Homo sapiens: one gene and its partners. The protein of the gene in region 2 purifies or fractionates together with the protein of the main gene of each other region. This does not show direct contact. Each region holds a gene or a part of one and is shown on either strand. Other genes may lie near its edges.

Region 1 (3,739 bases), on a different chromosome or scaffold from region 2:
AATACCAAATGTTGGGAATCATGTGAACCAGTGTTGACTTTCTACTAGCTAGTGGGAGTATAAGTTAGTACAACCACTTTGAAAAATGGTTTGGCAAAAGCCTAAAGTATGCGTGCCTTATTATCTAGCAATTCTACTTCTTCAGCATATACCTGAAGGAACTTGTGCCAGTTGTACTAGGATATACATAAAAGACTACTCACAGCAATGTTATTTGCAATGGGCAAAAACTTGAGATGACAATAAAATGGGTAAACAACTGGGGGTATACTCATATAATGGAATATTATTCAGCAATGAAGAAATAAGCTGCAGTATGAGGCGGGTGGCTCACCTGAAGTCAGGAGTTTGAGGCCAGCCTGACCAACATGGCAAAACCCTGTCTCTACTAAAAAATACAAAAATTAGCCAGGCCTGGTGGCGTGCACCTATGGTCCCAGCTACCTGGGAGGCGGAGGCAGGAGAATCGTTTGAACCCAGGAGGTGGAGGTGTAGTGAGCCGAGATCGCGCCACTGCACTCTAGCCTAGGTGACAGAGTGAGACTGTCTCAAAAAAACAAAAACAAACAAATAAACAAGCAAAAAAGAAATAAGCTGCAATAACATGGATGAATCTTACATAATGATATAAAGTAAAAGAAGCAAGAAATAATATGCACAGCATATTATTTTGTACAAATTCCATTTGAACAGAGTTCAAAAACATGCAAAGCTGAAATATACTGCTTATGGATTCCAAAACTAGGAGGTAAAACCATAGAGAAAAAAAGGATGTGATTACTGAAAACCTCTTGAGCAAGGGGAGGGGGATGTGACTAGACAAGACACAGAGGGAGCTTCAGGGGTCTGACTGTGGTCTAGTTATTGACCCAGATGTCACTTTATAATTATTTGTTATTCAGTACCTTTGTGTTTTATGCAGTTTTCTGCATACAGTTATATTTCACAATTAAAAAGTTAAAGATCTGAAGCAAAATTGAAGACTTGAGCTGGCACAGAACACATGCCTGTAGTGCCAGCTATTCCAGGCACCATAAGCACCATGCGCACAATGAGTGAGCCTCTGAATAGCCACTGCACTCCAGCCTGGGCAACACAGCAAGACCCCATTTCTCAAATAATTAATTAAAGATAATTTTTTTTTAAAAAAGACTTAGGTCCATGTATGTTTTTCTGTATTTTACATTTTCACTATACATATATGTGTGTGTGTGTATACATACACACATATCTATATGTATGTATGTATTTTTGAGACAGGGTCTTGCTCTGTTGCCCAGTCTGGAGGGCAGTGGTGTGAGGATGGCTCACTGCAGCCTCAACCTCTTGGGTTCAAGCGATCCTTTTGCCTCAGCCTCCAGTGTAGCTGGGACCACAGGTGTGTGCCAACATGCCCGGCTAATTTTTTTTTTTAGAGATGGGGTCTCACTTTGTTGCCCAGGCTGGTCTCGAACTCCTGGCTTCAAGAAATCCTCCTGCCTCAACCTCCCAAAGTGCTAAGATTACAGGTGTGAGCCACTGCACCCAGCCTATACATATATATATATATATATATATATATATATATTTTTTTTTTTTTTTTTTTTTTTTTTTTGAGATGGAGTCTCGGTCTGTCGCCCAGGCTGGAGTGCAGTGGCGTGATCTCGGCTTACTGCAAGCTCTGCCTCCCGGGTTCCCGCCATTCTCCTGCCTCAGCCTCCCAAGCAGCTGGGACTACAGGCACCCGCCACCATGCCCAACTAATTTTTTTGTATTTTTAGTAGAGACGGGGTTTCACCCTGTTTGCCGGGATGGTCTCGATCTCCTGACCTCGTGATCCGCCCACCTCGGCCTCCCAAAGTGCTGGGATTGCAGGCGTGAGCCACCGCGCCCGGCCATATATATCTTTTTAACTGACTCTGATTACCAGCCAAGTTTGGAAATAGCTCTAAGGAAATTCTTCCTGATCCGTCCCTGAAAATAACCCACCATCACCAAAAACATTCCTCCTCTCAGCCCTCAATTCAATGTGTGAGAGGCAAACAAGAAATTCCTCCCAGCCTTTGTCTCTCTCCTACTTACCTGCAAGTGGGCAAGGTGACAGGGCCACACACTTATGTACCACACAGAGCACAGCAGTGGTTAAGGAGGCTACGTGCTGGCTCTCAGGGACCTATCGCCACTGCCAGCTGCAGGCCTCTCTGCTTTTTTGCCCCACTTACTAAACCAGGTTTGGCCTAAGGTGGACCACGGCCTGGACATTATGTTTGTCTGGTCAGCTTGGAATGCCCGGGAGGAGGCATTTCCAGCTGTAAAGGGGAGAGATGCTAAGTGACTGAAGAAGCCTGAGGCCAGAGAGATGAAAGACAGAGGAAAGACCTGAGGTCTATACAGACCTAGAAATTGGACCAACCTGAGCTATAAACTTCCTCAGTCAATGGCATCCTTCCAAAGCCTCAGTAGTCAGGGCCAAGGAAGCACACAGTGGCCACCTCTCTCCAGCAATTCCTATTTCCAGATCTGCTGAGAATCTCCACATAGATGTCCAATGAGCATCTCTAATTCACACGGCCAAAATCAAAGCCACACCTCCTGCCTAAACTTCTTCTTCCTCTAGCATTCTCTATCTTAGTGAAAGGGAATGGCACCACCTTCCATCCAAGCCTGAAACCCGAGGCCTCCTGCTCACTGAGGCTCCACATCTAACTCATCAGTGCCCTATGAGCACTACCTCTGAAAGTTAGTGGGATCTGCCCACTCCCTCTGTCCTGCTACCCAGTCCCAACCGCCATCGTCTCTTACTTGGGCTACTTCAACATCCCCTGGTCAAGAAGCCAGGCTCCAGGCTTTCCCTGCTCCTATGGCTTCTTCACACCATACCCAAAGAGATCCAGCTAAAATGCAAAGACAATTACATCTCTCCCTTGCTTAAAATCTTTCAATGGCTCCTTATCATCCCCTGGATAACATCCAAACTTAATATGAGGTATAAATCCCTTTATTTTCTAATTCTTTAGGTCTTATCTCTCACAATTCCACCCCTCACACGCTTTGATCCAGTTCTACTGCAACTCTTATACTTTCTTTCAAAGCACCAAGCCCTCCTACCTCTACACCTTTGTACATGCTATTTCCTCTTCCTATCCCTTCAAACCTCAACTCTCCCTCGGCCAGGCAATTCCTGCTTATGTGTCAAGTTATGGGTTAAATGCCAGTTCTTCTGGGATGTTCCTTGGGTCCTTTATGCTTTTTCAGTACCCTAAAATGCCACAGTACCTTTCACAGGTATTTCCAAAGCCTGTTGAATTATCTGTCTTCCTTTTTTTTTTTTAGAGGCAAGGTCTCAGGCTGGTCTTAAACTCCTGGTATTGAGCAATCTTCCCGCCTCGGCCTCCCAAAGTGCTGAGATCACAGGTGTGAGCACCATGTCCAGCCTGTCTTCTTGATGACAGAGGATCATATCTGTATTCTTCATCCTTACATGCGCAGCATGTGACATACAGCAAACATTCAATACATAACTGAATGCATGAATAGAAGCATGGCTGTGTACTCAGTACTCACAGGCTTTGAAAAAAAGTGAAGACCCAGTTCCTACATTCAAGAGTTTACCGATGAAGACAACCTAGATCACCTTCATCCTTCACCCACAAAAACACCCCTAAGAGCCAGGTAACACTGACCCTGTCTAATGCAAAATCAAGATCATTAACTCGGGACATGATAAATCACTTGCCAGAGGCTACCAGCTGACCTGGCT
Region 2 (3,500 bases):
AGAGTATAACAATTTTAAATTATATCAAAACTATATTATCTGGCTGTCTATCTATATTAGGGTATACTCTTTGTACAAAAAGAACTGAAAAACAATTTAAAACATTTTAGTAATCATAATATTGGTGGTAATGTTGGTACTGTTAGGCAGTAAATGTGTAAGATAAGTCTGGAACATTCTGTCATAGTAAGTACACAAGGTAGCAAGGAAGGTACCAAAAAGTATATAGGTTGTTTCAAAAGGACTTGGGCACCAACCTTAAGAGCTCTCCTTGAACAAAGATGGGACAATATGAGCATCAATGAAGACAATAACTGCAGTGAATTGAAAAACATCAAGTATGTTTAAACCTATGAATACCTAATGATACTTGAAAGCAAAACACAAAAAATGAATTATTACCAGTGGACTATGCTAATGAACCAATTCATTCTTTTGAAAAATTGGTAACTAAATAGAATCCTTTCCTATGAATTGCACTACTAAGGAATCAGAAAACGTGAGGAAATTTCTCTATACAGAAGTATCCAAGCTAATAAATGAAAAAGAAATATTAGAGTAGCACACCATTTTGCAACCCCTGATGAATTAGAGTCTAGGCACTAAGCTGCTAACATTACACAAGACAGCCAACCTCCAGGCAGAATGATTAAATATTACATTGAGGTTTTTACAACCAATAGCTATTCTATCTAAATTTCTTTCAAGTCAGGAGTTCTACTAAACTGATCCATCCTTTTCACTTATGATCACTAAATTGGGTCAGCAAACTTTCTATAAAGAACCAGATGGCAAATATTTTGGGGTTTCCTGGACATAAGGTCACTGTTGTAATTACTTAAACTCTGCCGCTGCTATTGTAGCATGAAAGTAGCCTTGGACAATAGGTAAAAGAGTGGGTGTGACTTTTTTTTTCTTTGAGATTAATGGGCTATAGTCTGCTGACCTGCTCTAAATGACAAGGTAGATAAATCAATGATCCCTAATGATAAATTAATTTTTCCCAACAGAAAAGTTAATCTGGTGATTATTATTCAATCCTCAAATTGAAATCAGCAGAAGGAATAGTCAACATTATTTTCTGGCTAACCATCTCTTAATTTATTTTGTTAATTTAAAATGTGTGGTAAGCATCAAATGTATTTTGACAACTCCAAGTCCAAAGTTTATAATTTCTCAAATTGTAATAAAGCAGATCTTATATGTTAGGGATCCAGTAGTAATTCCTTATTTACTGAATTAACTTGATACATACAGGTATAAATACATGGGTATATACACAGAAGTAATTTAGATGGTTGGACATTTTACCTTATCAGAAAACCAAATGAGCCTGGAATCTTCATAATACCTAAACATGCCGTATTTAGGATCCAATAATTCCCTCATGATGAGCAAGAAAAATTCTTTGCGCACCCCTCCTGCATCCACAGCATCTTCTCCAACAAATATAACCTAAAATAGCACAATGCAAACACCAAATAGACTGTAAAGAAATGAAAGTACATTCTGGAGACCCTAGAACATGTTATTTATTACTAATACTCTACAATTAATAGTTTAAAATAAATATAATTTTATTTATTAAGTTTAAAAGATTCACTAAAAACAAATAGGAAAATTTTAAACATAGCTTCTGAATAAAAGTCCCAATTATACCACAGAAAATGTCAAATTACCTTGAGTGGCTTCTTGTAATCTATGTTCTTTGTTTTCCTAAGGACTTCCATTGCATCTCCTACAATATTTTCTCTACGCACCACTAGAATTAAGCAGGGATTCACAGATTCAATCACTGGGAGAAAAAGAGAGGAGACATTCTGCCTGTGGGCCTGATCAATAGCCATCTGGAAAACAAAAGATTAACATTTTAACAGCAATGCTACAATAAAGCTACTGTGACTGAAACAAGCTAACCTCTACCTATTAGTTACAGGTATTCTATAATTCCTATGCTACTGAATTAACATAGCACCTAACAGTATCCCGTACAGCATAAAACTTAATAAACTGAGCATAAAGAGTACCCTTTTGAATGTTTTTATACTAATGTATAATGTATAACTCATAACACCATTAGAGTAAGCCAGTACAGAACGGTAGTAATACTGATAAATCTGAGCATTGGTTTTTCTAAAAAACATTCACTGGAGGGGAGGGTAAAGAGGGAGGAGCAAAAACAAACCTTTAAAGAGTATAAGGAACAGGCTGGGCGCAGTGGCTCACGCCTGTAATCCCAGCACTTCGGGAGGCCAATGAGGGCAGATTACTTGAGGTCAGGAGTTCAAGACCAGCCTGGCCAACATGGTGAAATCCTGTCTCTACTAAAAATGCAAAATTAGCAGGGCGTGGTGGTGTGTGCCTGTAATCCCAGCTACTCAGGAGGCTGAGGCAGGAGAATCACTTGAACCTGGAAGGCAGAGGTTCCAGTGAGCTGAGACTGTACCACTGCACTACAGCCTGGGCGACAAGAGCGAAACTCCGTCTCAAAAATAAAAAATAAAAAACAAAGAATAAGGAATGATCTGGCTAAGGAAGCATTACACAAATTCACTTAACTAAGTGATCATGGTATGTGCTCACGAACCAAGGATTTGACTTTTACCATTTAAAACTTTTGTTCTTTTATTATGGTTCTCCCTGAGTTCTTGTTCTAAAATGGAATATCCCATGGTAAAATCACCAAGTTATTAACTTATCGTTTTAACAAAGACCTCCAAAAAATTGGCTTACTAGCTGTTAGTATAGAACACTACAAAAATATTTAGAATACCAAATGCATTTATTTGAACAGAATAAAAATGGTTACCAAGATTTGAAGGTTTTTAATTTTTTAAAATATTTTTAGACTATTAAATATTCAAGCTTTCTTTTCATCCTTTCCTTAATCCTTAGTTGGTATAGTCAGATATTCTATACCAGAGGAAGCAGCTCAAAATCTTTTTTATTTACAGGATCAAATGATAAAGCAAACTTACTGTAACCCTTTAAAGTCATAATATGAATTAGTTTAAAAAATCCTCTCTATAAATGAAAGAACTCTCAACATAAAATGGATGGGAAAGGGTGATAGGAAGGGGAAAAGAAAGAGGAATAGGAGATAATGGTGACCAACCCCAGGAACATGTTTAATACCTTATTATTGAAACTTTCTTCAAGGAAATTTCACATCTTCTTCCTAACGAGATCAAATGCTTCCTACTTTTAACATCTCTCACCTCTAGTGACTTCCATCTCTTACCAAGCATATAAAAAGGGGACATATAATGAAACAAGATTTTGAAACAAACCAACATCTTATCAAGTAAACTAGTAAAACGGTTTATAAAGATTGAATATTTCTGTAATGAAAGAGGCTTATACAATTTTTAATATATAAAATGATTATAGGTTAAGTTATTCCATTTTCACTGCAACCTTTTTTTATAAATGTTCTCATAAGAATATACATATCACATGCAGCAGTCTTCTTTATAGCTACCCAAAGTACTTTGTGTACC
Region 3 (3,739 bases), on a different chromosome or scaffold from region 2:
AAAGGACAGGGATATAAATCAATGGAACAGAACAGCATGTCCTGAAATAAACCCATACATTTATATTCATCTGATTTCCAACCAAGGTGCCTCAGCAATTCATCAGGGAAAGAAAAGTCCTTTAAACAAATCGTGCTAAAACAATAGAATATCCACATAGAAAACAAAAGGAAAAACTGCCCCTTACTTCACACTATACACAAATACCAGCCTGAAGTGATTTACAGATGTAAGAGCTAAAAGCATAAAACTTATAGAAGACATGGGAGAAAAATCTTTGCAATCCTAGTATAGGCAAAGATTTCTTTGATACAAGATAAGGAGCATAAATCATAAAGAATTAATAAATTGGACTTAATCACATTTTAAAATTTTTGCCCCTCAAAAGACATCCTTAAGAAAATGGAAAGCCAAGTCACAGGATGGGAGAAAATATTCTTAATATACATCTGAGAAAAGACCAAGAATATGTAACAAGGTCTTTCACTCGATAATCTAAAAACATGTATACATATATATAATGTTTTTATATATTTTATATATACAAAACGTGCTAAGACAATAGAATATCCACATAGAAAAAGGGAACAATTGCCCCTTCACACTATACACAATTAGCTTGAAATGATTTACAGATATAAGAGCTAAAAGCATACAACTTTTATAGATATATAAAACTATATATCTATAAAAGCAGGTGAGAAAAATATAGTCTAATGTCATGAAAAGCATAAACAATAATCTATGAATGTCCATGAGCCATTTTCTCGTTTATAGCAATTATTAAAACTGAACTTACCACCTGTGTCCGAGAAGTTGGTTTTCCTTTGGTATCTGTAGAAAATTTCCCTTTATTACTAATACGTGCTGCCTGTTCTTTACAGAAATTTATATGTCTATCAGCTGCATTTTCATTGAATCTCCTCTGACAATATGGACATTGAATATAATCTATAACAGATAAAAACGGAAACAGATTAATAGCATAGTACTTGAAACGGACATTAAAAAATCTTAAGTTTCTATGCAGTCATTCAAAAAATATAAGTAATAACATCTGATAAGCAAAAATTCCCATATCCTTATAACTACCCAGTTTTACTTGTCTAAACTTAGTAAAGAGTTAAAAAAAAAAAAAGTCTGCTGGTACATGACTTCCAATTTTCTTCTAGCTTTGAATCAAATGTGTGAAGGAAAAAAAACAAAAGATAAATCCTTAGTACAAAAGAGTAAGCAGAGGAAAAACGTTATTTCTTTTTTGCCTTTATGTTTTCATTTATAATGGATACATACTTTATATAGCAGACTAGTTAGGAAGTAATAATACATGACGTTAAAATACATTTTAAAATACAGGCTCATCTATTAAAATTTTTTATTTCATCAAATGGAAAACTGTCAAGAAATAGTTTACTTATCTTTAAAGTGCTATTTTCTCTTAAAAGTCCCAACAGATGGAAGAAGTGATTAAAATATATCTCACTGACATAATTCAAATTTAAGAAACAGCAAATGTTTCCAAGATAAAATATCTTCCCAAAATGCAAAGCATACTGTAAATTAAACTTCTTTTGAAATTATTCCAGAACCATATTTTGTAGCATTGTAAAATAACTAAATGAGACACTGGGAATAAATGTAAAAATCTGGTAGTGTCAAAAAAGAATCTTAATTTAACAGGTTTACAACTTATTTTAACAGGTTTACTTTTTTGATACAGAGTTTGCCCTTTTCAATTTATATTCATCTGAGCTCAAAAATTTGTCCTCCTTACTACTGGAGTAGGTCTTAAACCTCTCATAAGAAAGAAATAAGCTGTTTTTGTCAGGCCCAAAAGATTAAAAAAACTTCTAAAGCCCAAACGATCCTGAAGAACTGGTACCCTCTCACTCTCTTATATTAGACATGAGAAATGTAGCTATGTAGAGTTAAGACACAATATCTAAATATCTTCAAAGCAGAGAGAAAACTCAAGTTCATGAAGAAAATAAAAGGTAGTATTAAAAGAGGCCCAGGATCAGTTAAAGCATACCAGAAACATTCATTCATATAAGTTAATTATTAATACTCTAGAACAGGGTTTCGCAAAGTATGGCCCATGGGCCAAATCCAGCCTGCCTGTTGCCTGTCTTTGTAAATGAAGTTTTACGGAAACACAGCCATGCTCATTTTATATTTATATATATATAATTTATATATATTTATATATAAATATAGATATAGTTTATATATAAAAATATAGATATAAATAATTATATATTTATATAAATATATATAATTTATTATATAAATATATATTTATTATATAGATATATATTATATAAATATATATATAATTTATTACATGAATATATATATTTATTACATGAATATATATAATGTATTACGTAAATATATATATAATGTCTTACGTAAATATATATAATGTATTACATAAATATATATAATGTATTACGTAAATATATATATAATGTATTACGTAAATATATATAATGTATTACGTAAATATATATAATGTATTACGTAAATATATATATAATGTATTACGTAAATATATATAATGTATTATGTAAATATATATAATTTATTACGTAAATATATATAATTTATTATGTAAATATAAAATTTATTATATAAATATATAATTTATTATATAAATATATATAATTTATTATATAAACATATATAATTATATATAAATATATATATAATTATGTATATATAGTCTATGGCTTATTTGTTGCAATAGAAACCTTATGGCATATAAAATCTAAGATATTTACTATATCTGTAGATATACTATATCTCTCCTCTACAATAAAATGTCAAAAACGATCATATCTAGATTTGCTAAAGAACTTTCTCTTTGTTAGAAAATAAATCCCAATCTAGAGTACTAACATAGCATTAATGTGGCTACCCTGTTACATTAACAACCTCTTTAGGCTGCTCTAATAAGGAATGTCAAAGTGTCAACTTTGTCACTTTAAGTTTTTCGGTATCTCAGTATCTCATACAAGGTTGCAAAAATCTTGCTTTGCTTTTAGTAACAATGACTCAAGCAACTTTTATCTGCTCAATGAGAAAAAATTTAACAATATACAAATTTAAGCCATAAATGTAGTCGAGCCACATGAATTATACATTTTAGGAAAATTATGATTTTTTTTATATCAATCTCAGATGAGAAGATACCAAGGAACCAGGCAACATAATTATATGACTCCTGCTGAATGACTACATTTCAATCCGCAGTGAGCATGGTTAAAATATTTCCTGGAATACTCACATTTAATAGTTACTATAATAATTTTTAAATGATATTATAATGCCTTGTTTAAATAAAAGTATTAAAATAAAAACATAATACACTTCCATGTTCTAAATTAATGTCTTTATAAGCCTACATGACTAGATTACCACCACCATTTTACACCAAATTTTAAAGATTATGCCTCATAACACTCCATGATTGTAAGTTAAGCTTAACAAGTGAAAATTTATAAAAACTCTATCATTATTTTCTTTCCACATGAACATTTCTGTCAACAATATTCCAAATACCAGGATCATAAGAAGGTGGAGGAGGAGGAGGAAGTTTGCCACCCTCTTTGAGGGCCTGATCAAGGCCTTTAGCTGCTCTTATGGTAGCAATGAATTCTTCATGTTTCCTTCTCCAATTAGATGGTTTCTTTGGTGGTTCTGGCTATAAATAAATAAATAAATAAATAAATAAATA

What was found.
Region 1: the proteins of HERC4 (region 2) and SMO purify together in Homo sapiens (affinity purification with western blotting; one study listed by BioGRID). This does not show direct contact.
Region 3: the proteins of HERC4 (region 2) and ZC2HC1A fractionate together in Homo sapiens (co-fractionation; one large-scale study listed by BioGRID). This does not show direct contact.

Annotation. Positions count from the first base shown.
Region 1 is NC_000007.14:129,191,614-129,195,352, reverse strand, and holds part of SMO (protein smoothened precursor), read right to left. Parts: intron 1-3,739. UniProt on the Homo sapiens protein: G protein-coupled receptor which associates with the patched protein (PTCH) to transduce hedgehog protein signaling. Binding of sonic hedgehog (SHH) to its receptor patched prevents inhibition of smoothened (SMO) by patched.
Region 2 is NC_000010.11:67,953,284-67,956,783, forward strand, and holds part of HERC4 (probable E3 ubiquitin-protein ligase HERC4), read right to left. Parts: intron 1,848-3,500; coding exon 1,680-1,847; intron 1,456-1,679; coding exon 1,312-1,455; intron 1-1,311. UniProt on the Homo sapiens protein: Probable E3 ubiquitin-protein ligase involved in either protein trafficking or in the distribution of cellular structures. Required for spermatozoon maturation and fertility, and for the removal of the cytoplasmic droplet of the spermatozoon.
Region 3 is NC_000008.11:78,686,434-78,690,172, reverse strand, and holds part of ZC2HC1A (zinc finger C2HC domain-containing protein 1A), read right to left. Parts: intron 3,707-3,739; coding exon 3,565-3,706; intron 952-3,564; coding exon 800-951; intron 1-799.